Linked DNA regions of Homo sapiens. The protein of the gene in region 4 purifies or fractionates together with the protein of the main gene of each other region. This does not show direct contact. Each region holds a gene or a part of one and is shown on either strand. Other genes may lie near its edges. The genes, in order: XPO1, PSMC2, FHL2, AHR, MRRF, CTNNB1 and KLHDC4.

Region 1 (4,238 bases), on a different chromosome or scaffold from region 4:
ATATATTCTCAATTACAAAAATTGCCACTAATTCTGTTACAAGCCATGAAGAACACTGCTCTATGTTGGTTTATTTATCATACCTTTAGATGTAGTGAACTAGTTTAGTGTGAAGATTAAACAGTATTAGTAGCTGAATCTATGCGGAAAAAATTAAATGCCCTTTTTCCCAATGGCTACAGACCTGTGCTTCCAATATTACATTCAGAGTTGAACCCAACCTTACTTTCATAGCTTCCTCCAAAAGCAGCTGCTTTCTATGCATCCATGCTAGAAGAAATGAAGCTTAAAGCTTCATGTTGAATGTATAGCATGAGTAACAACTAAATGACAGGGATAATAAATACGGATGGTTAATTTTTTCAAGAATGCTTTAGGAGATAATATACTGATCAAAACGCCCTAAAAGTATAAACCTGGGCTAACAAGCTTACAGAATCACTGCAAGAGTAATTTTTTCTACTTTTAGCGTTTCCATGGACCTTTTTCAAGTTTCTACTATAGTAAAAGCAGTACTGTTGCATTTCATAAGGGAATGGAAACATTTATACATGATGCTTTTTGGACTACTATAAAAGATAGTACTGTATCCACCTTATATATTTTCAGAAAGTGTAATGGCACTCAGGTTTAGGTTTTTTTATTTTATTTTATTTATTTATTTTTATTTTTGAGACGAAGTCTCATGCCGTTGCCCAGGCTGGAGTGCAGTGGCGCAACCTCGGCTCACTGCAAGCTCCGCCTCCCGGGTTCACGCCATTCTCCTGCCTCAGCCTCCCGAGTAGCTGGGACTACAGGCGCCCGCCACCACGCCTGGCTAATTTTTTGTGTTTTTAGTAGAGACGGGGTTTCACCGTGTTAGCCAGGATGGTCTCGATCTCCTGACCTCGTCATCCGCCGGCGTCGGCCTCTCAAAGTGCTGGGATTACAGGCGTGAGCCACCGCGCCCGGCCGGCACTCAGTTTCTTAATTATGCAAATATAAATATCTTGACAATATAAGTAACCTCCCATCTACTAGCTGAACATTTATCTAACCAGAAATCTACTGTTCTGGCAACAAAACTACCATAAAAGATTTCTGGCCAGGCGCGGTGGCTCATGCCTGTCATCTCCACACTTTGGGAGGCCAAGGCAGGCGGATCACGAGGTCAGGAGATGGAGACCATCCTGGCCAATATGATGAAACCCATCTCTACTAAAATACAAAAAATTAGCTGGGCATGGTGGCGCGTCTGTAGTCCCAGCTACTCGGGAGGCTAAGGCAGGTGAATTGCTTGAAAACCTGGGAGGCAGAGGTTGCAGTGAGCCGAGACTGTGCCACTGCACTCAGGCCTGGTGACAGAGCAAGACTCCATCTGAAAAAAAAAAAAGATTTCTGACCCAACTGCAAAACTTTTTACTCATTCAAAAACATGTTTGGGCCAGCACGCGGTGGCTCATGCCTGTAATCCCAGCACTTTGGGAGGCCGAGTCAGGTGGATCACCTGAGGTCAGGAGTTCCAAGACCAGCCTGGCCAACACGGTGAAACCCCATCTCTACTAAAAATACAAAAATTAGCCAGGCATGGTGGCGTGTGCCTGTAATCCCAGCTACCAGGGAGGCTGAGGCAAGACAATCGCTTGAACCCAGGAGGCAGGGGTTGCAGTGAGCTGAGATAGCGCCACTGCACTCCTGCCTGGACCACAGAGCGAGACTGTCTCAAAAAAAAGTTTGGCCCCACAGGTAAAAAATCAAGTTTTTTTTCTTGTGACATATACAATTTAAAATTGTACACACATTTCTGTTTCACCTTTTAGTTGGGTTCAAAAAAACCAAAAATCTTAAACTGATCAAAATTTGGTTTATGTTTAAGATAATTCCCTACATTAACAGTACCACTTTGAAAAGTGCACAAAATTCAACTAACATAAAAATACTTGGTATTCCTGTTTTTATTTAAACAAACATATCTGTGAAGTACTTCTGTAAATGTTTTAAAAGTAGAAGAATCGTATTAGTGCCAAACATATTAAGTATATATAAAAGTACAGAGAACCTTTAATACCTACAAAGTATTTAATAACATTTGGCTCTTAAGGACAAAACAAGTATAATATTCCAAAACAACCCACTCTAACCATGTCAAACATGCAATTTCTTTCTCCAAACCAATTTTCATTATGGTTAATACAGAATTCCAAATTAATGCAAACTATGGAATATCTTTTTTAAAGGTGATAATTTAAAATTTTATTCTAAACCCAACAACTCTGTTACACTGTCATAATGTTATAAAGTTTTGGTTGGCTACTTTACCTGGGCTCCTTCTCCATGGTATAAGCAATTCACCACATTATCTAATAAGTTGATATCCAGTTTTTGGCTGAAATCAAGCAGCTGACGAGCTGCATGGTCTGCTAACATTGTCATAATTGCTGGCATAGATTACTGAAAATAAAGAAAAAAAATTGAAGCTGCCTATCAAGTTTTGGTATTATCAAAAACTTCCTACAAGTTATTTTACTTCAACCATGTTATTACAAATATTTTAATGAATACTTTAGAGACTTTAATTACAGAAAACTGAGATAGTAAAAGCAAGTAACAAAAGCTGAAATTACTTAGCTATTTGATAATTACATAAATTATTATGGTCCATTCAACTTTTCTAGTGTTTAGTTTATACACCAGGAAGACTTTCCTATTCTACTAACATTTATAAAGTATGCTAACCTATTATTTAAACGCATCCACTATTAGGATTTTATGGTCCTAAAACGTGATACAGTTCAGTATCTTGATGTCAAAACTTTTTAAGCAAGTAGGATTAAGTTCAAGTGAATGTGATTTTCTTTTCTTCCCAAGTAGGGTCTTCTGAATAACTCAGTAAAAGCTCACTTCACATTATCTTAACTTTATAAAAATAATGCTATAAAGACAGAATGGGCCGAGCGTGGTGGCTCACACCTGTAATCCCAGCACTTTGGGAGGCCGAGGTGGGCGAATCACTTGAGGTCAGGAGTTCCAGACCAGCCTGGCCAACATGGCAAAACCCCGTCTCTACTAAAAATACAAAAATCAGCCAGGCATGGAGGCGGGCACCTGTAATCCCAGCTACTTGGGAAGCTGAGGCAGGAGAACTGCTTGAACCCAGGAGACGGAGTTTGCAGTAAGCCGAGATGCACCACCACACTCTAGCCTGGGCAAGAGAATGAGACTCCATCTCAAAAACAAACAAACAAAGACAGAATGATGTTAAAAATTAAAATGTGGATATACAGTAATTCCTATTGTCTACAGCAATGGTTAGCAGGAACCACAAGTCTAACATATCTTGGTATAAATGCCCTTAGCCTCTACAGAAATAACTTAGCTTCTACACTCAAACCATTCAAATTGTTTCAACCCTCAATGAATTGGGGGATTGAAATAAAGCTACAAACATATTTACTGAATATATGATCTAGGAAAAAAAACTTTATGGGCAATATGCCTAACAAGATTTTTTAAATTCCAGGTATTCATTGGCAAGGTAAAAGCTGTAAAAGCTTGCCCATTCCCAAATAAAAAAGAATTCTAACAGAAAAATGAGCTACTTCGCCTAAATATGCACTGGTTAAAACCTACTAGTTCATATGCAGTGCTATCCTTTTAAGAGGATTCTACTCTAAGATGCTGGCACACATCCACTTTTTTGTTGCCCAGAATTATAAAATATATCTTTCCTCTGCTTTTCTTCAAAGCCAATGCCACTCAAACCTAATTGGTTAAGTCAGTAGTCCTTAACCTTTTTGGGGGTCTAAGATGCCTGAGACTCTGAGGAACCAATAGCTCTAACCCAGTTTTTAAAAACTCACGATTTTGTATACAATTATAGAGGATTCAGGACATCCTGAAAGCCATCCATGGCACTCCCAGTTTAGTGTATTTAGAACTAACAAGGTCAGATCTCCACTTCTTCCCATTTTAGGAACTTTCGTGGACCAGAAAATGAGTAGCTAATTTCTTTACATTATATTTAGACAAACTAGCTTGGCAGGGCGGAAAAAAAGTCATTAATTCCTGGCTATTTTATAACAGCTTAAAAATGTCCATAACAATAATGGCAGCAAATTCTATTTTAATGCAATTGTCTTATTTAAATATAACGTCTGTTACAACAGATTAGAACTCCAAAAGATGAGTCACCTATGATTGATATGATGTAAAAATAATGTAAAACTCAAGAAATTAGGAGTTCAAGAATTGGTCCATTA
Region 2 (3,364 bases), about 86 Mb from region 4:
ATCATCAAAACGAGCCCCTGAGAAGACAAAAGGAAAGATAAGCTCTTCAAGTCCACTCAAGAGTAGCACTATGCATGACCTGAAAGTACCAAAAATCTCAGCTCAAATCATGTCCTCAGGCACAAGTGACATCCCACTTTGAAGCAAATCCTGTAAGAACAGCTTGCTTTATATAAAACTAATTAGAAAGTGAATCTTTGCTTTCAAAAGTATTCATCACAGATTTACTTAACGTTTTTTAAACTGCCTATGGGGCAGTTTAGTGTTTTCAAAGTCTACCACATTTATTACTTAATTTGGACCTCTCAAAAACTCATGAAGTACACAAGACAACAATTATTCCCTTTATAAGATGAGCAAACTGAGGCTCAGAGATTAGTTAAAATAACTTGTCCTCAGGAGTTCGAGACCAGCCTGGCCAACATGGTGAAACCACGTCTCTACTAAAAATACAAAAATTAGCCAGGCATGGTGGTAGGCATCTGTAATTGCAGCTACTCAGGAGGCTGAGACATGAGAATTGCTTGAACCCAGGAGGCAGAGGTTGCAGTGAGCCAAGATCATGCCACTGAACTCCAACCTGAGCAACAGAGTGAGACTGTTTCTTAAAACAAAAAAAAAAGTCTAGATTTCATGGCTAATACTGTATTTCATCAAATCTGTGAAGCCAACAAGAACATTATTTTATGTGCACTAAGAAAAACCACCATCAATTAAATTATGCCCCAGTGCTTTCTTATGACATTAGATGATACTTCTCAATTTACGAGTTGTTTAAAGTATGGAAATAGGTGTTGTATGAATGAAATCAGATATAGACTGAGCATCCCAAATTTGCAAATGCAAAATCCAAAATGCTTCAAAATTTGAAAGTTTGAGCACCAACATGACAAAAGCAATACTCATTGGAGCACTTTAGATTTCAGGTTTTCAGATTTGGGATACTCAATCAGTATAATGCAAGTACTTCAAAAGCCAAAATCCAAAATATGTGAATTCCAAAACACTTCTCAAACATTTCGGCTAAGGGATATTCAACCCATAGCACAAAAATAAAGGCTTTGAAAAAATGACAATGGTATATAATGTGTCTTCTTGCCTTTATAGTTTAGCACTACTACTTATTAGATCTGTGGCGCCACTGTTTCAGAGCTCATAGAAGAGTTGGAGTTAAAATTCTGTACAAGATTAACATATCACGACATATCACTTTACAGCTTTCATGAAACTGAATCCTAAAGCAGTTCTCTAACGTATCATTCTCACCTCCAATAGCATCAATTTCATCAAAGAAGATAAGGCAGGCTTTTTTTGTTCTGGCCATTTCAAAGAGTTCACGAACCATTCGAGCCCCCTAATGAGAAAAATGATTTATTAATTCAAAATTGGTTTCAAAATATTTTAAAATAAGTAAAAAGTTATGCTTCAAACTTTTCAATATTTATTCCTAACAGTATTCTCACCCATTATTACCTAAACGTTTTTTATTTTTTTATTTTTTTGAGATGGAGTCTTCCTCTGTCGCCCAGGCTGGAGTGCAGTGGTGCGAGCTCGGCTCACTGCAACCTCTGCCGCCTGGGTTCAAGCGATTCCCCTACCTCAGCCTCCCGGGTAGCTGGGATTACAGGCATGTGTCACCACACCCCGCTAATTTTTGTATTTTTAGTAGAGACGGGGTTTCAGCATCTTGGCCAGGCTGGCATTGAACTCCTGACCTCATGTTCCACCCGTCTCAGCCTCCCAAAGTGCTGGGATTACAGACGTGAGCCACTGCGCGCAGCTATTTTAATTTTATTTTTTGAGACAGAGTTTCACTCTTGTTGCCCAGGCTGGTGTGCAATGGCACGATCTTGGCTCAGTGCAACCTTCGCCTTCTGGGTTCAAGCGATTCTCATGCCTCGGCCTCCCGAGGAGCTGGGATTACAGACATGCGCCACCACACCCGGCTTTTTCTATTTTCAATGGAGACGGGGTTTCTCCATGTTGGTCAGGCTGGTTTCCAACTCCTGACCTTAGGTGATCCGCCTGCCTCTGCCTCCCAAAGTGCTAGGATTACAGGCATGAGCCACCGTGCCTGGCCTATCTAAACTTTTTTTAAAAAAGACTGAAGTTTGCTCCCCAGTCCACCAAATTAATCTTGCCAGCCTTAAAATATTAAGTCATTTTCATGATTCTGTATCTATTAAATAGCAATAGGTTTCAGATCTGAAGAGGTCAAATTAATAGTTAAATAAAGGAACCATTCTAATTAGTAAAACTTGAGTAAATAAAAGCATCTGATCTATCACTTGGAATTCCTGATCATTGAATTTGACTTGCAAGTTTTAGTTAGGGAATAAAAGGATACCTCAACTCACGCAGCTCCGTAGCTAATTCTTATTGTAAATATACGAATCATCAACAGGTTTCAGATACAATACATATAGCCCTAGACTTATTCTCTAAATATATATATATATATATATATATATGTATGTCTACAAACATAAAAACAACCTATGTTCTCACTTTCTCATTAGGACTGAAAACACTGCCCCTGAAGTAAAAGTATACTTTTTAATTAATTTACCAGGCATTTCCGTAGAAAAGCCACATCTGTAGAAAATGTCACCCTTTTGAGGAGGGGGCATACTGGTTAAAATTTTAAGTGGTTGCCTATCTCCAAATGACCACAAAGGCAGCTTCTAAACTACTAATTACAATCAAGAAATTTCAGGTCTCAGGCCGGGCGTGGTGGTTCTTGCCTATACTACCAGCACTCTGGGAGGCCAAAGCAGATGGATCACTTGAGCCCAGGAGTTTGAGACCAGCTGGGCCACATGGTAAAACCCCTCTCTACAAAAAATAGAAAAATTAGCTGGGTGTGGTGGCATGTAGCCATGGTCTCAGCTACCTGAGAGGCTGAGATGGGAGGATCGCCTAAGCCCAGAGAGGTAGAGACTGCAGTGAGCTGAGATCATGTCACTGCACTCCAGCCTGGGCAACACAATGAGACTCTGTCTCAACAAAAGAAAAAAGAAATTTCAGGTCTGGATCCCTCAATGCAGAAGTGCCATTTTTAATTTCATTCATACTGTAAAATCTTTCACAAGGCTATATATTCTTTGATAAATTTACTTTACCTCACCGACGTATTTCTGTACAAGCTCAGATCCAATAACTCGAATGAAGCACGCATCAGTCCGATTAGCAACTGCCCGCGCACAGAGTGTCTTGCCTGTACCGGGTGGACCAAAGAGCAGCACGCCCTTGGGAGGCTCAATGCCAAGGTTCACAAACCTCTCTGGCTGTGATAGAGACACAATTTTCACACTTACCACTTCTGTATAACAAAAATCAGACTACTTCTAAATCAACAAAGTGC
Region 3 (4,238 bases), on a different chromosome or scaffold from region 4:
GGTGAACCCTGACCTGCGCTTCTCAGCAGACTCTTGTTCCAACCTGGATTGCTGAAGGACACCCTGGGGGACCCATCCATAGCTCTGAACTCTCTGATACCTTCACCCGCAAACGGCTTCTAAAACACTCCAGTGAAACCCCTCATGTGGCTGTCATCCTGAGTGCCGTGAAACTGGCTACAAAATGGGATTCCTTTGGCATCTCTAAAGGAATTCCCAACTGAATGGGCACCAAGTCAGTTCATGGCATTTTACTATCTCTTTTCTGCTCTCGTTGCTTTGTGCTCTGTAGGGATTTTTGCTGCTCTCCTCCCTGGTCGTTAATATCAGCACATTGCCGCTGACTGATTGACTTAGGCCATGCATGCAGTTGGATCATTCTAGCACATCCAACATGTGTTCCTTCTATTTCCTTCTCTGATCACATCATTCTTAGGAAAGACAGGAATCAGAAGGCTGCACCATCACTTTCTGTTCCCAGGGATTTAGTGACAGTTGAGGGATGGTTTCCATCTTGTAGCGAAAGAGACCTCTGCCTTGAGCAGAGACGAAAGAGGTACAGCACCAGCCCCCTAAACCAATGCTGCAGCCCTGTGTCTTTTGGCTTCAGGGCAGATGCTGTGCTGAATGTAAAAGAAACGAAACTCAACAGTGGTATTGTGCCAAACCTTTGAAATACCATAAGCAAAAATAGCTGATCTGGCTACTCTAAAAGTTGTGTATCTTCCTGTATCCTGTCTTGCCTGCTGCGTGTCTCACTGCACCTGACGACTTTTCTCTGTCCCTTTTCATGTATTTAACAGGACAAGCATGAGAGCTCAGCCACCAGACTGCCCAGTTCCAGCCCAGGCTCTGTGTCTCACTTGCTGTGTGGCCTTGGGTCAGTTACTTGACCCTTCCGTGCACATCTCCACATCTATAAAATGGGGAGAACCAGGCCAGGGGCATAGGCTCAAAGCCTATAATCCCAGCACTTTGGGAGGCCAAGGCGGGTGAATCAATTGAGGCCGGGAGTTCGAGACCAGCCTGGCCAACATGGCGAAACCCTGTGTCTACTGAAAATACAAAAATTAGCTGGGCGTGGTGGTGCATATCTGTAATCCCAGCTACTTGAGAGGCTGAGGCACGAGAATCACTTGAACCTGGGAGGCAGAAGTTACAGTGAGCCGAGATCATGCCACTGCACTCCAGCCTGGGACACAGAGTAAGACTCTGTCTCAAAAAAGACCCAAAAAAAACTGGGGAGAACCAGGGGTCTGCTTCATAGGGTCTTTCTAGTATGTAGATACAAGCCCTTGCACTCGCACTCGTACTCTTCTAGCAGCTGACAGGGTAAGCTCCAGACTGCCACCTTTCTGCTGACTACTTCCTTATTCTTTTCGTGACACGTCCCTTCCACACACCTTTCAGAAGCTTCACCCTCTCTCTTTGTCGCTTTTCATTTTGGAAACATCAATAAAAATGTCCAGTTTGAGGAAGAAGTAGATAGCCCGAGAAAAATATAATTATAAAAGCTTTAGCTGGAAAAGAAATACTTACGTAGGTGAGAGGTTCAGATATCATCTGGCAAAAGGTAAGTCTCACTTTCAAGGACAGATTTTGGATATTTGGGGCTAATCATCCCTGACCAGTGGCTGAAATAAAAACAAAACAAAAATCACTTGCTGTTTCTCCAGTGATTTAGTGGAAAGACCCTTAAAAGCCGTCATCCTTCCACGCATGTTTTATGAGCAAATAAACAAGAGTCTCCCAAATGGAGCCAAAATCATCAAGGCTGCTGTCAAGCCAGGAGTGAATTGTGCTGAACTTTTCAACCCGGATTAATGTTTTGAGATACGTGGGGTTACACTGTATGATTTTGTACATTTTGGAACAAAAAGAGACATTGAGTTGAAGCGAGACCTTGGCATTTGGGGCTTTTGATGCTTTAGGCGTGCTTTTCTTGACTTTCAAAAATAATCGGGTAGTTGGGTTTGTAGTGGAAGCAATGATAGAAAAAAATGTTCCTGTTTTTTTCTGGAAGTAAAGCCCACAATCCTGGCAGGCGGGGAGATACCTGATAGAGGAACTGTGCTCTTAGGTCTGGTGGCCAATCTCTTCTCTTAAAATAGCACAGCCACCACAGGCCTCAGCTACTTCCCTCTAAAGGACATGTTCATGTGTGTGAGTTTTAAATGTTGGCATGCCTATGGGAATTAGGCTAATTTTGAGAGTCCTGACCTACTTAAATGAGACAGGCAAGACTTCAGAGCCTGTTATATAGTTTGAACATCCTCTCTATGTAGCCACTGAATTGTAATCTTTATTTCTATTAAGTTACTCTGGGAAAATGCTGTGATCTCAAAGGGTAAAGATTATTGATTTGTATGGCCAGTGTAATAGTGGAGAATAGACAATGCTAATACAATTTTATGATCCTCTGACATTACATGCTTCCTGAACCTTTTCTTGGATACCTGTTAGCATTAACAAAATATTTTCGTAGACTGATTACAGAGTTTTTGGGGGATCTGCCTACGTTCTGGGCTTCAAAAATTCAACCAACTAAAGAAAAAATAGGGCTGGGCACAGTGGCCCACGCCTGTAATTCCAGCACTTTGGGAGGCCGAGGCAGGTGGAACACTTGAGGCCAGGAGCTGGAGACCAGCCTGGCCAACATGGCGAAACCCCGTCTCTACTAAAAATACAAAAATAAGCTGGGTGTGGTGGCGTGCACCTGTAATCCCAGCTACTTGGGAGGCTGAGGCAGGAGAATCATTTGAACCTGGAAGGTAGAGGTTGCAGTGAGCCAAGATTGCGCCACTGTACTCCAGCCTGGGTGACAGAGCAAGACTCCATCTTAAAAAAATAAAAATAAAAAATAGGCTGGCCAATAACTCCAGAGACAGCTGCTAATACTGTGCATTTAACAAATTGGTGATTTTAAGCCCTGGGCGACACACGTAACCTAGACTTTGAATGTTCCATGGGTCTGCAAGCAATGCCATGAAATTGGACTGGCCACCATACCCACCCATGTGCTTGGAGGGTGCTACAAAGAGAAAAAAAAAATAATAAACAAGAACAAAAGATCTGCAGATCAGAAACTAGCATTCAGGGTTTAGTTTCTAGTGGTAGTCTTTGAAACCACTGTGTATTGCCTGATGACTTGTTCCAGGCACTTGTAAATGCCTAAACTGCATGATCTAAATTTCTCCTAACACCCTATAGGTAGGAACTTTTTTCATTCCATTTTATGGAGTAGCCGCTGAGGCCTAGAGAGGATGAGGATCTTGCCAAGGGTTAAAGGGATTAGGAAGTATCCGAGGTACAATTTGAGCCCAGACCCGGAGGGTCCTCACCTAGCATGTGATGCCACCTGCTACCTGCAGCCTCGGGCAGGACCCTGTCTATGTGACTCTCGGGCCAGATGTGGTCAGTCCTTATGAGTAAGAGATGGTGACCACCTGGCCTCAATCAAGTGACCTTCAGTCAGAGGCCCCTACTCTTCTCATGGGCCCCTTTAGATGGTGATGATTACATTGCAGAATTGAGGCTCAAGTTGTTTCACAAACTCTCTTTCCAGCTTTTGTAGCTAATAGGAAACATTGAAGTGATGATCAAATTGGCTGTAAAAGTCTCAGTTAATGTTTGGTAATGGACAGAAATGTTCAGTGATATTTTGGCAGAAAGCAACCTGGCAGGGCTCTGAAATAGGAGACGAAGGTTTTCACACATACAGGTTAAATCTAGATGCCCCTAGTATATTTTGGAAGGTTTCTGACCAAGCCTAGTGAAAGGTGTAAGGTCAGGTTTGAAAAACCCACCCTTCTGTCCTCGGTGTAACACAGGCCTCCCTCGCTGGTCTTTCTGGACCCTTTTCTGGGAAGAGCACCTACTCCAGTCACATTCTCAGGGTCCAGCCTGCCAACCTGGTGCTTTTTTATTTGTTGGGGTGGTTTTTAAGTTCTCAATGAGCAAATTACCTTCTTGGATCTTCTTCCGTGTAGAATTTGTCCACAGAGTTTGTAACGAGCACTGAAAACGCGTATTTATTTGGATTTCCTCCTAAAAGACAAAAATCTGTCTGTGAAGGGAATTTAATCAAGCAGGGTCCTAGGATCAGAAGCAAAGCTGTCTGGATGGATTTCATGAGAAGGGCCTGTCAGTGCACGAACTTGGCCTGTCAGTGCATAAAACCAAAAGTTCAGCCACAAGACATAGCAGCAGAGGTGCACAGCGCTCAGCAGTGACCTCGC
Region 4 (4,238 bases):
AAGATAGGACTATTATTTGTCTTTGAAACTACCAGAGCTTCCCAGTACAGTACCATGCACTTAGTACATATTTGAGATGTACTAATTTAACAATTAACTACCACTTAAAATTTTTTTGGTAATGTTTTAGTGATTCTGGTAAGGCAGATACATTTTATGCGGGTTCGAGGGGGAATAAAAATGTGTGTTTGCGTAGAAGAAGGGGGAGGGGAAACAATGAGTTTTCCAGGATTATGGAACTAGTAGTGGTTTCTAGGCCATATTTCATTTTCCTGATCTTCCCTGCTAATGTCTTGTGCTAGAAACTATGCTGTTTATATCTCATCATCTCTCCTCAGGTATAGCAAACAAAAGGGAAAGGAAAGAACTCATCACAATTATAGGGCAGCAGCAGGAGGGTGGCAGAAGACTTCTGACTCATTAAAAGTGGCTTCCAGCCAGAATTCTCAGAAGTTTTTGTAGATGTTTTTGACTCATATAGGGAAATAAAATATCCAGCTGTGTTCAGCCTGACAATGAAGTTGGGGTCTATTTGTGCTATGTGTCACCTCCATTACATTAAGCACATAGTTTATGATTGTAAATATTTGAAATTTATATTCAGAGATAAATACGGATGCACTGAAGCTGGGGGAAGGAAATGAAGAATGAATGGGGTTAAGAGTTGGGCTTTATTGGGTGTAGGTAGTATGGTAGGGGGATTTTATTGAGGAATACTTCAGATTTCCTAGCTGTTAGATGGAGAGTAGCACCATAGTGCTGAGAAGCGGGTGCCCAACTCCAGGGGAATGTTGAATGGAAGGGCACAGGGTCAGGTACAGGGACTGGAAATAAAGATAAACAAGTTATGGGTAAGTAGACCAACGCAGTAAGAGTAGATTAAATCACCCCGAGGAAAAATCCGATAGAGCAAACTCAGTACTGTGAGAGGCAATCTCTTGTTAAAAAACGTCACTTTGATCTCATAGGATTACTGAAACCATATCTTTGCATGTCATTTTGAGGTTTTATAATGAATATTATATAAAACAGTTATATTTATGAGTAAACTTGGTTAATTTTTTCAGCTTTGCTTCAAACACTGGCTACAAATGATGAACCTCATAGACTTTTTTGATGGAGATGTTAAAAAGGCTTTCAAGATAGCATTCAGACTGGCATTGGGCATACTGTTGGGCCTGTTACCACCAGCAGTTAAAGCTTGCAGGGCTTCTAAACAGAAGCATGGCATGCAGTCAGCTGGAGTCTTGATTTCATAACAATTTTACAGATTGGGACAAGATTTTTGAGGTAAAGGTTTCAAAAAATAATAAGTTACTCCTTTGCCTGACCAACATCATACGGTCTATTTCAGGAGATGTTTGAACTCCAGAGCTCCCAAATCCAATCTTACAGGGATGTTTATTTATATTTCAAACAGGCTTTTCCTTAAATAATGGTTAGCAGTGTCCTTTCTTAAAGATTCGAAGACAATACAAAAGTAAAAATATTAGCGTAATCCAAGTCAAGTGCAGTTAATGTAAGATTACTCTATTTTTAATTGTTCTGTATATCTTCAAGATGTATGGATAGATATTAAATATTTTAACAAAATCTGTACATTTCTCACAAAATCAGTGAAAAAGTGGGTCAAATGCATTACCTTTGTTAGCTTTAACAATCTGACATTTTAAAAGCTTCAAATCCAGTACATCTGAATTGTTAAGTTCTGAGGGTACTTCTTAGCCCTGACCTTAATTCCTCTGTGTATTTGACTTTCTTCCTCTGTGTATTTGACTTTCTTCTATGACCTCCAAAATATTCTACCCTGGTTTTTTTCCGTCTATCATTTCTTCTCTGTGTCTATGCCTCTTCCATAGCCCTATACCTAAATGTTGGTATTACTGAGGTCTATCCTCAAGCCACTTTTTTCCTTTTCTGGTACAGCTCTCATTAGGAAATGTAGTTGTTCTTCTGAGCTACAAATCGCAGAACCATTTGCAACCTCTCCTCACTCAATGGTTTCCTCTTCCTTACTTCCTATAGTGAGTTAGTTTAGTTCAGTGAACATTTGAGTCTGGCTTAAATCTCTCTTCAAGCCAGTCCTTTCTTAACCTCACTGTCACTGCCTTTGGTCAGGTTGTGATCATTCCTTTTCTTGGCACTTTTGGTCAGCAAACATTAATTGAGAATCCACTCTATTATGCTGGGCATTAAGGATACAAAAATGATTTAAGCTTACATAGAAATAAGGGTGTTAGGCAAACAAGTATAAGCAATTATGTTACTTGACAATGGAAATTTGCTCTCATGTTAAATATTTTGTAAGACACATAGTAATGCATTAGAAATGTAGACAATTTTGCATTATGAAAAGCAAGCCTCAGAATCTAGTGTGAGGCTGAATATTGCAAAGAGCCAGCACAAGACAGGCAGCAGTACCACATGGAGGGATACCTTTATGTTACTATTAGTTCTCCCTGTGTCATAGCATGTTGCCTTGTTTCAGCGTTTGTGTCACTCTCTTCTCTCCAGTGTTTCATAATCATTACTGGAAAGCCACCAAGAGTGCAGGACTGGATTGTGTACACACTTTCTATTTCTGTGAAGTTGTTTGTATGGAATATTCCTTAATGGAATCATTATATTAGACATTTGTATAAGAAGTCAAATGGGGCAGAGTTGCTAATCCATTGTGAGGTAGGTCAGGGAGGACTTCATGAAAGTGATCTACTTGAGCGGGGACTTGAAACCAATGGGACATAACAAGGAGGTTGTATGAAAGCACTAAACCACATGTTGTAACTGTAAGTAATTTCTTAGCTCTGGGGTAGAATAGACAAAAGCGGCTTCAATAGAAGAAATGAAGCCAGAGGGGTAAATGAAGCTAGAAAGATCATGAAGGATTTTGTGTGCTAAGCTAAGGAACATGGACAGTTCAGAGCTACTGAAGGAGTTTAATCAGAGGAGTGACACAGTCAGATTTATGTTTTAGAAAGAAGTTCCTGGCATCCCGGAATCCTAACTTCAGCGAACCCTGCCCTGCTTTCTGTATACTCTATCACCAGAGTCAGCTTGGTGAAACACAGGCTGATCTTGTAAATCTCAGCTCAACACTTAAGAACAGATGCCTAAGTCCGATTTCTATCGTTACTTTGCTGTCTCCTCTATCTTGAACATTTTTGCATCAGACACCCACATAGCTCACTTCATTTTACTCATGTCTGTCCTGAAACATCACATCAGAGAGACCTTCCTAGGCTGTCCAAACCAGCATCACGTCTGTCACCCCTTAGTTTCTTACCTTGCTTTATTTTTCTTCTTAGCACTCACCGCCCTAAAAGTTATATGTTTATTTGTTTATTTCTCCATCCTCCACCTAGGATGTAAGCTCCATGACAACAGGAGCTTTTGTATATTTTGTTTACCTGTAAGTGTTCTGTGCTGGGCACTTGATAGGTGTTCAGCATTTGTTGAAAGAATGTGGCCCCAACCATCCTTCTTCTTTTCTCTCTTTCACCCTGTGCCTCTCCCTTCATGTGGGGGAATTCTTACAGTTCACTAATCCTTAGTTATGCCTCTTCATGAAATCCTGTCCCTCACTCAAGATCCATCTCAGATACCACCTTTTCTGTAAAATCTTTTTTCAAGCAGTTGCTGCTTCTGCTTAGCTCCCATAACACTTTTTGAATAGTTAGGAGAAAAGTGTTTACCTGGGCTGTACAGGATGTGATGGATATAAATAAATACTTGTCAGCAAGTTATTAATTAACCAGTAGAGAATTACACAATGAGGTAGACAAGCATTATAGGTAAAGTTTGAAATTCAGTTGGTTAAGTGGAGAAGTGAAGTAATTAGGTGTGACTTGAAATTTGTTTATAAATGCAATATGATTAGGGGAAAATAGCTAGGGGAACCATCACCAATTTCTATTATATACACAGTTGTACAGACAACCTGGAGAAGGTATCTGTTGATACATACATAAACACACACACACACACACACACACACACACATCATTTTACCGATGTATTACCTTTTTTGTAGAAGTATTTACTTTTCATCTTCTTTCTGCCTAAAGTATTACTTCTCCACATACATCACTGAAAAGAAATTATCTAGAAATGTTTTGATTGGGTCATATTAATAGCACTATGCCCAGGCCAATTTCTACTTTACAAAAGCTGATATAATTCCATTTGAATTGTCAAAAATGTCTTTGTTGTAAGAAAACGCTAGATAATTACTCTTCTGG
Region 5 (4,238 bases), on a different chromosome or scaffold from region 4:
ATCACTGCATGTATATCAAAGCATCATGTTTATAATAAAATTTTTCAAAGAAAAAAAGAAAACAGGAAAGACCAAAAATTAATGAACTAATTGTCCAACTCAGAGGATAGAAACAGAACAAGTACACAGGAGAAAGTAAATAATAAAGAACAGAAATCATAAAATTGCAAAAAAGAGAGATCAAAAAATTAAAGACTCTTTTAAAAGGTTTATAACTTCTGTCAAGAACAATTAAGAAAAGAAGAAAGTAGATGCAGATAAATAATATTAAGAAAGAAAAAATGGACATGACTATAAAAATAGTAGAAATCTTAATAAGAGACTATTATGAACAACTTTATATCAACAACTTTGAAAGGTCAAAAAAATGAAAAATTTCCTAAAATATATAACTTACTAAATCAAGAGAAAAATCTAAGCAGTCTCATAATCATTAAAGGAACCAATTCTATGATTTAAAGTCTACCTACACACACACACACACACACACACACACACACACACACACACCAGATTCATATTACTTTACAGGCAAGTTCTATCAAACACGCAAGGGGCCGGGTTTTGCCATGTTGGCCAGGCAGGTCTCCAACTACTGACCTCAAGTGATCCACCCACCTTGGCCTCCCAAAGTCCTGGGATTACAGACGTGAGCCATCGTGCCTGGCCTAAATCTTTTTCCTTTATAAATTACCCAGTCTCAGGTTTTTCTTCATAGCAGCATGAGAACAGACTAACACAGTCTATGTGTCTGTTTTTATGCCCATACCATGCTGTTTTGGTTACTATAGCTCTGTGGTATAATTTGAAGTCAGGTAATATGATTTCTCCACATACATAACTCTTAAGGTTAACATATAAGAAGTGTTTCCTATAAAGTCAGGACTAAAACAAAGATGCCTATTATCACCAGTCACATTTATTCAAATTACACTAGAGTTCCTAGCCAATCCAATGACAGTGAGGGGAGGAGAGGAGAAGGGAGGGCAATAGGACAGGAGGGGAGAAGAATGGAAAGGGACATATGTGCACCACAACACATGTACAAGAATGCTTATACTAGCATTATTTGTTTTAGCTCAAAACTGGAAACAACCCAAATGTCTGTTAACTGTAGGATGGATATTAAATTGTGGTATATACTTTCAGTAGAATATCATTAAAAAAATAAAAATGCACAAACAACCATTATGTGCACAACATGGACATATCTCACAAATAGATTATTACCACAGAAGTCAGACACAAAATCCATACTGACGTCACAAAGGACAAAACTAATCTGTGGTGTTAAAGTCAATATAGTGGGTTATCTATCCTTACAGTGAGACAGTAACAACTCAAAGGGACATGTGGTAAGTTTGGAAAACACAAGTGACAGTCTATTTATTGATTTGGGTAATAAGTACATGATTGTGTTCACTTTGTGAAAATTCACTGAAGCACAAACTTATGATTTACGTAAACACTTTTCCTTATATATAACTCAAAAAACTAATACATATAAAAGTGACAAAAAAAAAAGATAGGATTCCCCCAGAAATAAACCTGATTAAAGAACTGATTAAATAACTGTACAAGATCTTTTTTTTTTTTTTTTTTTGAGACAGGGTCTCACTGTCCCCCAGGCTGGAGTGGCAGTGGCATCATCATGGCTCACTGTAGCCTTGACCTACTGGGCTCAAGCAATGCTCCCACTTCAGCCTCCCAAGTAGCTGGGACCACAGGGGTGCACCACCACACCTGGCTAATTTTTGTAGAGACAGGGCTTCCCCATGTTGCCCAGGCTGGTCGGAACTCCTGAGCTCAAGCAATCCAACCACCTTGGCCTCCCAAAGTGCTGGGATTATAGGCGTGGGCCACCACTCCTGGCCTTGTGCAAGAGCTGTCTGGAGAAAACTTGACACTATGATCATAAATTTCATATAGAAAAGGAGAAAGTCAAGAACAAAAAGAAAAGCATATGTGTGGTGAGGGGAAAGATCTGTACCAGTAAATTGGACTTTATGACACTAAGTCAGGCAGTATGAAATTTACTGAAGGGAGAGATAAGCAGTTCAATAAAATCAACAGCTCAGACACAATGCCATATATATACAGAAACTCACACAATGGGGCGGGGCATTACAAATCTGGGAGTAAAGAGTAGGCTAATCAATAAATGATTTTGACACAACTTCTTATCCATCTGGAAAGGAAACTTTAAAAATTACCTCACATTATATTCAGAAATAAATTACCTTGCAATAGACGGGTATTTCTTAAAGAAGACACAATTAATAAAGGACTAAAAAATATGACATTAAAACCCATGTTCAACAAAAACATCATAAAGTAAAAAGCAAAGAAGACACTTGGAACATATGGACAAAGAATGAGCATCCCTAATATGAAAGAATCGAATAAATCTAAAAGAAAAAGTCAAACAACCAACTTCTGCAGCCTCAAACTCCTCACCTCAAGCCATCCTTCCACTTCAGCCTCCTGAGTAGCTGGGATTACAGGTACAGGCCACCAGGCCCAGCAATTTTTTTTTTTTTTTAAGAGGCAAGGTCTCATTATATTGCCCAGGCTAATCTCAAACTCCTGGCCTCAAGCAATCCCCTCACCTCAGCCTCCTGAGTAGCTGGGATTACAGGTGTGAGCCACAGCACTCGGCTAAACCAACTTTTAAAGAGGCAATCAAAGAAGACAAAACTGAATAGCCCACAAAATATGAAAAAATGCTGCTTATGCACTGTAACTGTCTATTACACTAGAAGACTGCAGTACTGTAGGCATCAGGAACTCAAGTTTCTGGTTCTGCCATTAACTATATAGGAACATGGGCAAATTTCTCACAAACTATCTCAGTTTCTTCGTTTATAAAATGGTGAGATCTGGATTAACTAGATAATTATAAGGATTTCTTCAATGGAAAATTATAATTCCTTCAATGGATAATTATAAGAATAAAATTAGTAAATGTATAGAAACTTTAAAAAATATAATGCTACATACAGATCAAAGGTTATTACTATTAACACTATTAACAGAATATAACTCTTCTAAGCATTACTGTTCTTCCAGTAATTTGTTAATTTTCCTATTACAGAAAGGGGAAGGTCTGCATGAAATTAGAAAAGGAAAGTCAGTGGGAAAATATTCAGCAGCATATATCTAGCGCCATTCTTGGGGGAGGACTCCCTGATCCACCACTGCAAATTGCTGGTGTGACTGACAATTTTCTATCACTCATTCTTTCATTCAACAAAATTTGTCAATACATACTAAATCCAGGCCCTGTTAGGTGCTAAATAAGAACAATATAGAACCTACCTTCATCAGGTCCAGCATAGAAGACAGATAAACGATAATCAATCTTACATTTAATTAATTAATCACTGCTGTTCTAAGTGCATCAAAGGCAAAATAACAGAATGCACGAGTGCAGGCAACAGGGGACTTGACCTAGTCTAAGAGGTCAGGAAAGGCTTCCCAGAGGAAGTAGCATTTAAGCTGAGACCTGCAGTACATCAGAGTCTCATTCCTGGATGACACAAGCCATTAAGATCATCCATCTAAATCCATGGCTCTAATACCCACTTCACCCAACCACCTTCTGGTCTTAATTATACTTCCAACATGCATCTTCCTATAAGGAGACAATATATTGATCCCTGCTACAAGCATTCTGGCTTGCTTGGCACTTAAACCTTTAATTCTAAATCTAAAAGAAAGAAATTAGGCATTTTCTGAGCTACCAAGAAAACAAATGAGGCAGCATGGTAATGAGAAAACAGGCACTGGGTTATAACACCATCTCTGCCACTGTAACCTTTTAAGCTAATCCAATGAAATAGCTGAGGCACCATTTCCTCATGTTAGCAAGGGGAGAAATTCAGTACATCTGAGATACCTGCCAGCTATAATTCAAGGGCCAACTATAAGAAAGGGGTGAAGTAGGAGAGAACGTCACATGTCTCTACCTTTGGCTTTCTTGGTAGCAAAATGGCGGACTGGTACAGCTGAATAGGCCATGTATTGCCTATGGCCATGTTGTCTTTCATGCACTGTCTTCAGTGTAACTTCTGAAACGGGTCTGATAGAGGCTGCAAGATAATTGCGAAAGGTAGGGTGGACCATGCGGAAGCACTTTAATCCCAAGGCCATGACTGAAGACAATCCTTGGAAACATCCACTAAAAAGAATAAGACAAAAAGCAGATCTAAGTAAAAGATCTAAGTACAAAGCTTGCA
Region 6 (4,238 bases), on a different chromosome or scaffold from region 4:
CCATTCTCCTGCCTCAGCCTCCCAAGTAGCTGGGACTACAGGCGCCTGCCACCACGCCCGGCTAACTTTTTGTATTTTTAGTAGAGATGGGGTTTCACTGTGTTAGCCAGGCTGGTCTCGATCTCCTGACCTCATGATCCGCCCACCTCAGCCTCCCAAAGTGCTGGAATTACAGGCGTGAGCCACCGTGCCTGACCAATCTCTTTCCTTCTAAGGCAAGCTTGTCCAACCTGCAGCCCATGGGCCACATGGCCTAGGACAGCTCTGAATGTAGCCCAACACAAATTCGTAAACTTTCTTAAACATTATGAGATTCTTTTGCAATTTTTTTTTGTTTTAGCTCATCAGCTATCATTAGTGTATTTGGTGTGTAGCCCAAGACAATTATTCTTCTTCCAATGTGGCCCAGGGAAGCCAAAAGACTGGATATCCCTGGTTCTAAGACATAGCACATGGTGTTCCTTTTCTCTACCTGGAAAACGTTTAACCCTCACTTCTCATATAGACAAGAGACGGTTCCCTCTCATCCTGCAGTCCCACTTAACATCCCCTTTTCAAGGAGACCTTTTCCCTCTCATCTAGACAATTCCCCTCCCCATTAATTCTCATCACTATTTGCTGTCATTTCTCCCATAACACTCATTCTAATTTAGGATCACATATTTTTAAGTATTTTTGTCACCTTCACAAGACTAAGAATTAAGCACGGGGACCCTATCTGTTGTGTTACCCAATGTATACTATGTGCCTATTCCATTTCTTAAAATACATTAGATGCTATTTTCAGAATAAACAAATGAACATAAGAATAACCTGGAAGAACTTAAAGATTCCTAAGCTTCCAGTCCCATACATGTCCAGCTATCTACAGACCTCCCTGTCACTTCAAATAAAACACTATGAGATCTTGATATAAAAATTAACACTCCAGGGATTCTGATTAAATAAATCTCAAAATCTGTATTTTTAGCCTACATTACAGGTTACTGCTGGAACAGCTGACAGAATTTACATCCCATCCCCTCATTCTATATGAACTCAGCCACATTTGTCTATCCCCAAGACTATGGTTCCTCTGCCAGTAGTTACCTGGAGCAATCATAATGTCTTTCTCTCTCATAAATTCCCAAGTAAAATTACTCTCAATAAGTGAGAAAAGTAAGTGTTGCCAGCCCTATACTTTATTCCCAACATTTTCTTCCATTAAATGCCTTTATATTTTTCCTTCTTTCAATACTGATTTGAAGCTTGCTTTGAAATTCTGAGTAAATGTTGTTAGGTGGGTTACTGAAAGGAGAAAAAATGCTTGGTAGCTAAAAAGTAACTGTTTTCATGACACACACACACACACACACACACACACACAGAACCCAAGAGGCCCTAGTACAAACCATCTATTCTTTTCCCCAATTGCCAACATACACAATATACAAAGTACCACATATAAGTTGCCTTCTTAAAAATACTCAGAATAGAAAAAAATTGTTTCTCATACTTAGACGACATCTATTCACTGAGAATACAGAATATCAGGGCAAAACACTGCTCATAATCAGGCAAGAGAAAGAAAATGCATCCAAATAGGAAGTCTGTTTGCAAACAATATGATTCTATACCTAGAAAACCCCATAATCTCTGCCCAAAAGCTCCTTGATCCAATAAACTTCAGCAAAGTTTCAGGATATAAAAATCAATGTACAAAAGTCAGAAGCATTTCTAGACACCAACAACATCCAAGCTGCAAGCCAAATCAAGAATGCAATCCCATTTACCAAAGCCACAAAAAGAATAAAATACCTAGGAATACAACTAACCAGGGAGGTGAAAGATCTCTACAATGAGAATTACAAAAAACACTGCTCAAAGAAATCAGAGATGACACCAACAAATGAAAAAACATTCTATTTCATGGCAGGAAGAATCAATATTGTTAAAATGGCCATACAGCCCAAAGCAATTCACAGATTCAATGCTATTCCTACCAAACTACCAATGGCATTCTTCACATAATTAAAAAAAAACTATTTAAAAATTCATATGAACCCAAAAAAGAGCCTGAATAGCCAAGGCAATCCTAAGCAAAAAGAACAAAACTGGAGGAATCACTTTACCCAACTTCAAGCTATACTGTTAATACAAGGTTACAATCACAGCATGGTACTGGTATACAAACAGACACAGAGACCAATGGAACAGAAAAGAAAGCCCAGAAGTTAGGCCGCACACCTAACAAGTAAACAAAAACAAGCAATGGGGAAAGGACTCCCTATTCAATAAATGGTGCTGGGATAACTGGCTAGCCACATCCAAGATTGAAACTGCACCCCATCCTTACATGATGTACAAAAATCAACTCAGAATGGATTAAAGACTTAAATATAAAACTTAAAACTGTAAAAACTCTGCAAGATAACCTAGGAAATACCATTCTGGACATAAGACCTGGCAAAGATTTCATGACGAAGATGCCAAGAGAAGTTGCAACAAAAACAAAAACTGACAAATGGGACAGTATAAAGAGCTTCTGCGCAGCAAAAGAAATCAACAGAGTAAACAGACAACCTACAGAATGGGAGAAAGTACTGGCATGGGAGAAAGTACTGGCAAACTATGCATCTGACAAAGGTCTAATATCCAGAGTTTACAATAAACTTAAATTAACAAGCAAAAAAGAACAACCCCATTAAAAAGTGGGCAAAGGACATGAACAGACACTTTTCAAAAGAAGACATACAAGTGGCCAAGAAACATATGAAGAAAAGCTCGACATCACTGATCATTAGAGAAATGCAAATCAAAACCACAATGAGATACCGTCTCACACCAGTTAGAATGGCTACTAATAAAAAGTCAAAAAATGACAGATGCTGGTGAGGTTGCTGAGAAAAGAGAATGCTTATACACTGCTGGTGGGAAAGTAAATTAGTTCAGCCATTGTGGAAAGCAATTTGGTGATTTCTCAAAAAACCTGACAGAATTACCATTCAATCCAGCAATCCTATTATTAGGTATATGCCCAAAGAAAAAGAAATCTTTTTACCATAAAGACACATGCATGCATATGTTCACTGCAGCATTATTCACAATAGCAAAGATATGGAATTAACCTAAATGCCCATCAATGGTAGACTAGATAAAGAAAATGTGGTACATATATACTATGGAATACTAAGCAGCCATAAAAAAATACCAAGATGTCTTCCTCAGCAACATGGATGGAGCTGGAGGCCATTATCCTAAGCAAACTAACATAGGAATAGAAAACCAAATACCACATGTTCTCACTTATAAGTGGGAGGTAAACACTGAGTACACACGGGCACAAAGAAGGGAACAACAGACACTGGGGCCTACTTACGGGTGGGAGGTAAAGAACTGAAAAACTACCTATTGGGTACAATACTTACTGCCTGGGTGACAAAATAATCTGCACACGAAACCCCTGTGACATGCAATTTACCTATATAACAAGCCTGCACATTACCCGGAACCTAAAAGTTAAAACAAAACAAAAACTGCTCATGAGCATCTACTAATAAAGCAATCACTTTACATAAAACTGTACTATATTAGAATTTGTCTTTTCTCCTATAAATTCACAGCTCTGTTAGCAAATCTTAGGTTTACTCAAAACTGAAATTACAAACAAATTTTATTAAGCAAAACATATGCCATCATTTTTGATGGATAATAAGAACTCTACCTAAACTAGCCTTAAATATTTAGCTACAATCCAGATGACAGGTACTCTGAATGTAAATCTTGGCTGCAAACTGAATAGGACCATTTATTTTCAGTAGTTAAAGTTCTACCACCTTTTCCTAAGAAAAGTAATCTAATTAGAACTGCAGATGCTATACACAAGACTCAGAATAGATACATATACTTACCAGCTTCTACAATAGCCGGCTTATTACTAGAGCAGACAGATAGCACCTTCAGCACTCTGCTTGTGGTCCACAGTAGTTTTTCGTAAGTATAGGTCCTCATTATATTTACTAAAGCTTGGGGTCCACCACTAGCCAGTATGATGAGCTAGAAAGATATATATATATATCTTGTTAGTCAAGGAATCTTGATCACATGTCTGAGAAGAGCCATATTACCAACCTATTTTATTATACAAGAATTTCAGCCAGCTTGCCATTGGACCTAAATGTATTCCTGGACCCCATCACTCAGACCCCCATACTGGGGCCCTATCCAACTTGTCCTTTTAAAGCATTCCACTCAAATTC
Region 7 (4,874 bases), on a different chromosome or scaffold from region 4:
AATTGAGTACCCTTTCAGGGTGCTATCATTAGCTCTAGCCTACCTATGAAGAAACAAAAGTCCTCCATGTTAGGACATTTGAGGACATGCCCTTAGTACCTAACAGTGTCTGGCACATTTTAAATGGGAAGGTGGAAGGGCCCCCCCATTTTTTTTTTTTTTTAAGATGGAATTTTGCTCTTTTGCCCAAGCTGGAGTGAAGTGGCTTGATCTCAGCTCATTGCAACCTCTGCCCCCTGGGTTCAAGCAATTCTCCTGCCTCAGCCTCCCAAGTAGCTGGGATTACAGGTGCCCACCACCACGCCTGGCTAATTTTTGTAGTTTTAGTAGAGACGGGGGTTTCACCATGTTGGCTAGGCTGGTCTCGAACTCCTGACCTCGTGATCCACTCACCTCGGCCTCCCAAAGTGCTGGGATTACAGGCGTGAGCCACCGCGCCCGGCAGGGACTGTCTTACTCAGGATCTGCAAAATCTTATAACTGTGTGAAATTTTTTTTCTGGGAAAAAAGCACTCATTTGTTTGGTCTGAGGGGAAAAAATGGGGCTAGCCCAAGAGTCGCCCACTTAGTTCTACCCAGGGCGAAGCAATGTGCCTTAACGGGGGGCACGTGCACCCCGGAAAACTCAAGAGAAAATGAGCCGGGCGTGGTGGGCTCCTGTGGTCCCAGCTACTCCAGAGGCGGAGGTTACAGCGAGCCGAGATCGCGCTACCGCACTCCAGCCTGGGCGACAGAGCAAGACCCTGCCTCAAAAAAATAGAAATAAAAAATAAAACTCAGAGGGCACGTCTCCTAGGACACGGGGACAGGCTAGGTGGGGGCACAGGGCGTGAGAATTGGCGAGCATGGCCGGGGTATGTCAGGCCGGGGCTGCCATCTTTTTTGTTTTTTGAAACAGGATCTCGCTCTGTCGCCCAGGTTGGGGTGCAGGGGCGCATTGCTGCCTGGAACTCCTTGACTCAAGCGATCTTCCCGCCTCACCTTCCCGAGGAGCTAGGACCACTGGGCGCGAGACACCACGCCCGGTTAATTTTTTTTTTTTTCTTCTGTAGCGACTGGGGGTGGGGGGTGGTGTCTCGCTTTGTTGCCCAGGCTGATCTCGAACTCCTGGACTCAAGCGATCCGCCCGCCAAGGCCTCCCAAAGCTCCAGGGTTACAGGCATGAGCCACCGCGCCCAGCCCGGGGCCGGTCATCTTTTCCGGGGCCTTATGCAGAGTCCGAGGCCCCCGAGCCCGCTGCCGAAGACGGAGCTCCAAGACCGAACCTCGTAAAGGGCCCAGCCGCACCTCTACCCGGAAGCGGCTCGAACTCGGGGCCGGAAGTGACTCCATTTCTGTGCGCCGAGCTCCGCCCCACGAGCACCTGTTTCCGAGCGGAGAGCGCGGGCCGTTTTCTTTCCTGGTGTCCCGTCGCGGCTTGGGACCCGGCAAGATGGGCAAGAAGGGCAAGAAGGAGAAGAAGGGCCGCGGCGCGGAGAAGACGGCCGCCAAGATGGAGAAGAAGGTGTCTAAGCGCTCGCGGAAGGAGGAGGTGAGCGGGTCAGACCGGGCTTAGCGGCCCGACGTCGCGGCCGTGCAGCCTCGGCCGACTCCCTGCGCCCCCCGGGGTTACGGGTCGGCCGTGGGAGCCGCGCCGGCCCTGCGGGAGAGCTGGAGGCCGTAGGAACTGCCCCGGCGCCGCGTCCGGGCAGCCCAGACGGGGCCCGCCCCCTCCTGAGTCTCCACGTGTGTCTGTCCGCTTCTCGGAGCTGCCCCCTTTAACGTGCTTGCTTTTCTTAGTGTGGTGTCACGGGCGTTTTTCTGCGTTTCCTCCCCCTCCTCCCTTCTCCCTCCACCCTCCCTCTGAAGGGAGGCTGGGTGGTGAGAAGAGGGAGGGGTTTGGCACAGGAAGACCTGAGGTTGAGCCGGGGGCTGCCTCTGCATGATGTGTGGTCTGGGAGTAAGACTCTTAACTTTTCTGAACCTTACTTTTCTTTCAAAAGAGGGCAAATAATCATCACAGCAGCCCTGAGCAGTGAGCAGCAGATGGTTAAGTGAAGAAGGCACTGGAGCCACGGGGTATCCCGTAGCAGCTGATGGCGGCCATCACGGTTGTCTCCTTCCCTCTGGTCCTCAGCCCGGGGTCTGCAGGAGGATCCGTCCTGACCTTGGGGTTGAGTGTTCTGCGGCTGCTGCTCATGGATTCCCTAACCGGGGCCAGTTTTATGGCCTGCCGTGCGCCAGGCACAGCTCCCTGGGCTTTACTCCTCACGAGCAGGTCAGTTCCGTAGCACTGGTATTCCCATTTGACAGGAAGACCAACAGGTGAACCATGAAGTGGTATGGAACTGGGATGTGACCAGATGTCCTGAATCAGGAGCTCTTGACCACAGTCCTTTGTCCCTTTTCTTCCTAAGTCATTGATCTCTCCATGTCCTCATCTCTTAAATAATGGAGTTGGACTTTTCCCTCACACTCCTCTTAGGCTCTTTCTTTTTTTTTTTTTTTTTTTTGACAGAGTCTTGCTCTGTCACCTAGGCTGGGCTGCAGTGGCATGACCTGCTGGCTAGGGTTGTGGCACAGGAAGTCAGTTCATCTGTGTGGTATCTTCAGAATGGTGCTTGGCAGAAAGTAAGCACTCAGTAACCAGCTGTTAGCTGCTTTCTGCTTTTTTTTTTTTTTTTTTTTTTTTTTTTTGAAGGAGTTTCACTCTTGTTGCCCAGGGTGGAGTGCAATGGTGCGATCTCAGCTCACTGCACCTCCGCCTCCCAGGTTCAAGTGGTTCTCCTGCCTCAGCCTCCCAAGTAGCTGAGATTACAGGCATGCACCACCACACCCAGCTAATTTTGTATTTTTAATAGAGACCGGGTTTCACCGTTTTGGTCAGGCTGGTCTGGGACTCCTGACCTCAGGTGATGCGCTCGCCTCGGCCTCCCAAAGTGCTGGGATTACAAGCCGTAAGCCACCTTGCCCCGCCAGTTACCTGTCATTTTTACTCATCTCCATGTCTCCCTCCAGTACCCAATACTAAGGTGATTGTAACAGTAGCTTCCCTTAAGAGAGAGAGCCTGTCAGGCCTGGGGTTTGTATGTTATCTGAATGAACCCTCAAAACAAACTTTTAAAATAAGTGGGCGTCTGATTAGGCTAGACCCACAGAGGATCATCTCTTTCTTAAATTCAGCTGTGTCTGTAATACAACCTAATCACAAGAGTGGTATCCCATTCTTTCACAGTCCTGGCAATTATTGGGGGAAGGATTGGGGACAGTTTGGAATTCTGCTCCCACAGAACTCATGTATCAGGTCACCTGGTTCGCACCTTCACTTAGTCCTGGCCTCTGCCTGTCTTTCCAGCTGTCTCCCTGGGCTCACTCCAGCCACAGTGTCTTTTAGTGTCTCAAACATGGCAAGTTGTGTCTGTGGTCTTACCTATACCCCAACCATACTCCGTCTGAGTCGTCTTTTCAGCATTCAGCTTATTGTCACTTTGGAGAGGCTGTCACTGGCTAGGCCACTGGCGTCACCCAGACCCTACCACCTTGCTCTCCTTCAGTCACCCAATGATGATGAGGTTCAGCCAAGGTCAAAGACCGCTCTAAGTAGCAGCAGCAAAGCTTTCGCGGTACATAGACGTTAGTATTTGAACTGTTTGTTTAACCTCGTTGAGCAAAAAAAGCAAGTTGAAAGAATATACAGTATGATACCATTTAATGACATTTTATTTTTTATTTTTTTTGAGATGGAGTCCTGCTCTGTCACCCAGAGCAAGTGTCGCAGTGGCATGATCTCAGCTCATTGCAACCTCTGCCTCCCAGGCTCAAGCAATTCTCCTGCCTCAGCCTCCCGAGTAGTTTGGGACTACAGGTGTGCGCCACTGTGGCCGGCTAATTTTTGTATTTTTTAGTAGAGACGGGGTTTCACCGTGTTGGTCAGGCTGGTCTCGAACTCCTGACCTCAAATTATCCACCTGCCTCGGCCTCCCAAAGTTCGGGGATTACAGGCGTGAGCCACTGTGCCCAGTCCATTTAATGACATTTAAAAATGTAAAACAATACTATATGTTGCTTAGGGATACACATGTGTAATAAAAGATTGAAGAAAAGCGTGAGACTAATAAGCATCGAGTTCCAGATAGTGGTTACTTGAGGGAATGTGTGGGTGGGTACATGTGGGTGACACTTTATTCCTTACCCTGGGAACCGTATACAGGAATGTCTTGGATAAAGTTCTGTTAACTTGTGTGTTTTAAATATTGCATCGTTTAGAATACTAAGCAGTGTACCCTGCTGACATTCACCCTGAGATGAGAGGTAGACTGAAGGAAGCACGAGGTGGGGCGTGGCAGGCTGAGGGAACCTGGCGTTTTCATTGAAGGAACGGAGAGGACGCTGGTGTATCTTGGAGAGTGAGGCCAGGTGGGAGGTGAGGTTGGAGAGGTGGGTGTGGGGGAGGGAAGATGGTCTGCAGGTGTGTGTAGTTGCAAGCAGGACACTGAAGGCTAGAAGGAACTTGAAATGCCAGGCTCGGGTGTGCATGGGAGTGTCTCGTAAATGTTGGGAAATGGGCACTGGGACTGAGGCGGGAACACTGGGTTCCAGTGCTGCCCTCTGTGCTGGCACATCAGTACCTTGAGTCACTCTCGATGGTAGTAAAAGTTGAGACCTTCTTACTTGGATAGACTGCAGCTGGTATTTGCTGAGCTCTTGCTGTGCAGGCAGTGTTTTAACTAGACACAAGTCTTGCTCTGGTGGAGCTCATATTTTATTATTTTGTTGGGGTGGAGGAAACAAATAAGCAAGAGAAATATATCAGACACTGCTCAGCAGACAGGAAGGCAGGCAGGCGTGACGGCCCAGGCCTGGGCTCTGAGAGGTGCTGAGGGTGTCTGCAGTGA

Evidence for each region.
Region 1: the proteins of AHR (region 4) and XPO1 purify together in Homo sapiens (affinity purification with western blotting; 2 studies listed by BioGRID, with this or other methods). This does not show direct contact.
Region 2: the proteins of AHR (region 4) and PSMC2 purify together in Homo sapiens (affinity purification with mass spectrometry, with the first as the bait; one large-scale study listed by BioGRID). This does not show direct contact.
Region 3: the proteins of AHR (region 4) and FHL2 purify together in Homo sapiens (affinity purification with western blotting, with the first as the bait; one study listed by BioGRID). This does not show direct contact.
Region 5: the proteins of AHR (region 4) and MRRF purify together in Homo sapiens (affinity purification with mass spectrometry; one large-scale study listed by BioGRID and IntAct). This does not show direct contact.
Region 6: the proteins of AHR (region 4) and CTNNB1 purify together in Homo sapiens (affinity purification with western blotting; 4 studies listed by BioGRID and IntAct, with this or other methods). This does not show direct contact.
Region 7: the proteins of AHR (region 4) and KLHDC4 purify together in Homo sapiens (affinity purification with mass spectrometry; one large-scale study listed by BioGRID and IntAct). This does not show direct contact.

What each region holds. Positions count from the first base shown.
Region 1 is NC_000002.12:61,531,474-61,535,711, forward strand, and holds part of XPO1 (exportin-1), read right to left. Parts: intron 3,206-4,238; exon of another isoform or gene 2,950-3,205; intron 2,431-2,949; 5' UTR 2,425-2,430; coding exon 2,299-2,424; intron 1-2,298. UniProt on the Homo sapiens protein: Mediates the nuclear export of cellular proteins (cargos) bearing a leucine-rich nuclear export signal (NES) and of RNAs.
Region 2 is NC_000007.14:103,364,066-103,367,429, reverse strand, and holds part of PSMC2 (26S proteasome regulatory subunit 7), read right to left. Parts: intron 3,288-3,364; coding exon 3,123-3,287; intron 1,355-3,122; coding exon 1,267-1,354; intron 18-1,266; coding exon 1-17. UniProt on the Homo sapiens protein: Component of the 26S proteasome, a multiprotein complex involved in the ATP-dependent degradation of ubiquitinated proteins.
Region 3 is NC_000002.12:105,381,507-105,385,744, reverse strand, and holds part of FHL2 (four and a half LIM domains protein 2), read left to right. Parts: exon of another isoform or gene 1-1,634; intron 1,635-3,965; exon of another isoform or gene 3,966-4,047; intron 4,048-4,238. UniProt on the Homo sapiens protein: May function as a molecular transmitter linking various signaling pathways to transcriptional regulation. Negatively regulates the transcriptional repressor E4F1 and may function in cell growth.
Region 4 is NC_000007.14:17,304,733-17,308,970, forward strand, and holds part of AHR (aryl hydrocarbon receptor), read left to right. Parts: intron 1-4,238. UniProt on the Homo sapiens protein: Ligand-activated transcription factor that enables cells to adapt to changing conditions by sensing compounds from the environment, diet, microbiome and cellular metabolism, and which plays important roles in development, immunity and cancer.
Region 5 is NC_000009.12:122,270,806-122,275,043, reverse strand, and holds part of MRRF (ribosome-recycling factor, mitochondrial isoform 1 precursor), read right to left. Parts: intron 4,181-4,238; coding exon of another isoform or gene 4,153-4,180; coding exon 3,969-4,152; intron 1-3,968. UniProt on the Homo sapiens protein: Responsible for the disassembly of ribosomes from messenger RNA at the termination of mitochondrial protein biosynthesis. Acts in collaboration with GFM2. Promotes mitochondrial ribosome recycling by dissolution of intersubunit contacts.
Region 6 is NC_000003.12:41,227,005-41,231,242, reverse strand, and holds part of CTNNB1 (catenin beta-1), read right to left. Parts: intron 4,036-4,238; coding exon 3,891-4,035; intron 1-3,890. UniProt on the Homo sapiens protein: Key downstream component of the canonical Wnt signaling pathway.
Region 7 is NC_000016.10:87,762,449-87,767,322, reverse strand, and holds the start of KLHDC4 (kelch domain-containing protein 4), read left to right. Parts: upstream 1-1,336; 5' UTR 1,337-1,432; coding exon 1,433-1,531; intron 1,532-2,036; exon of another isoform or gene 2,037-2,257; intron 2,258-4,874.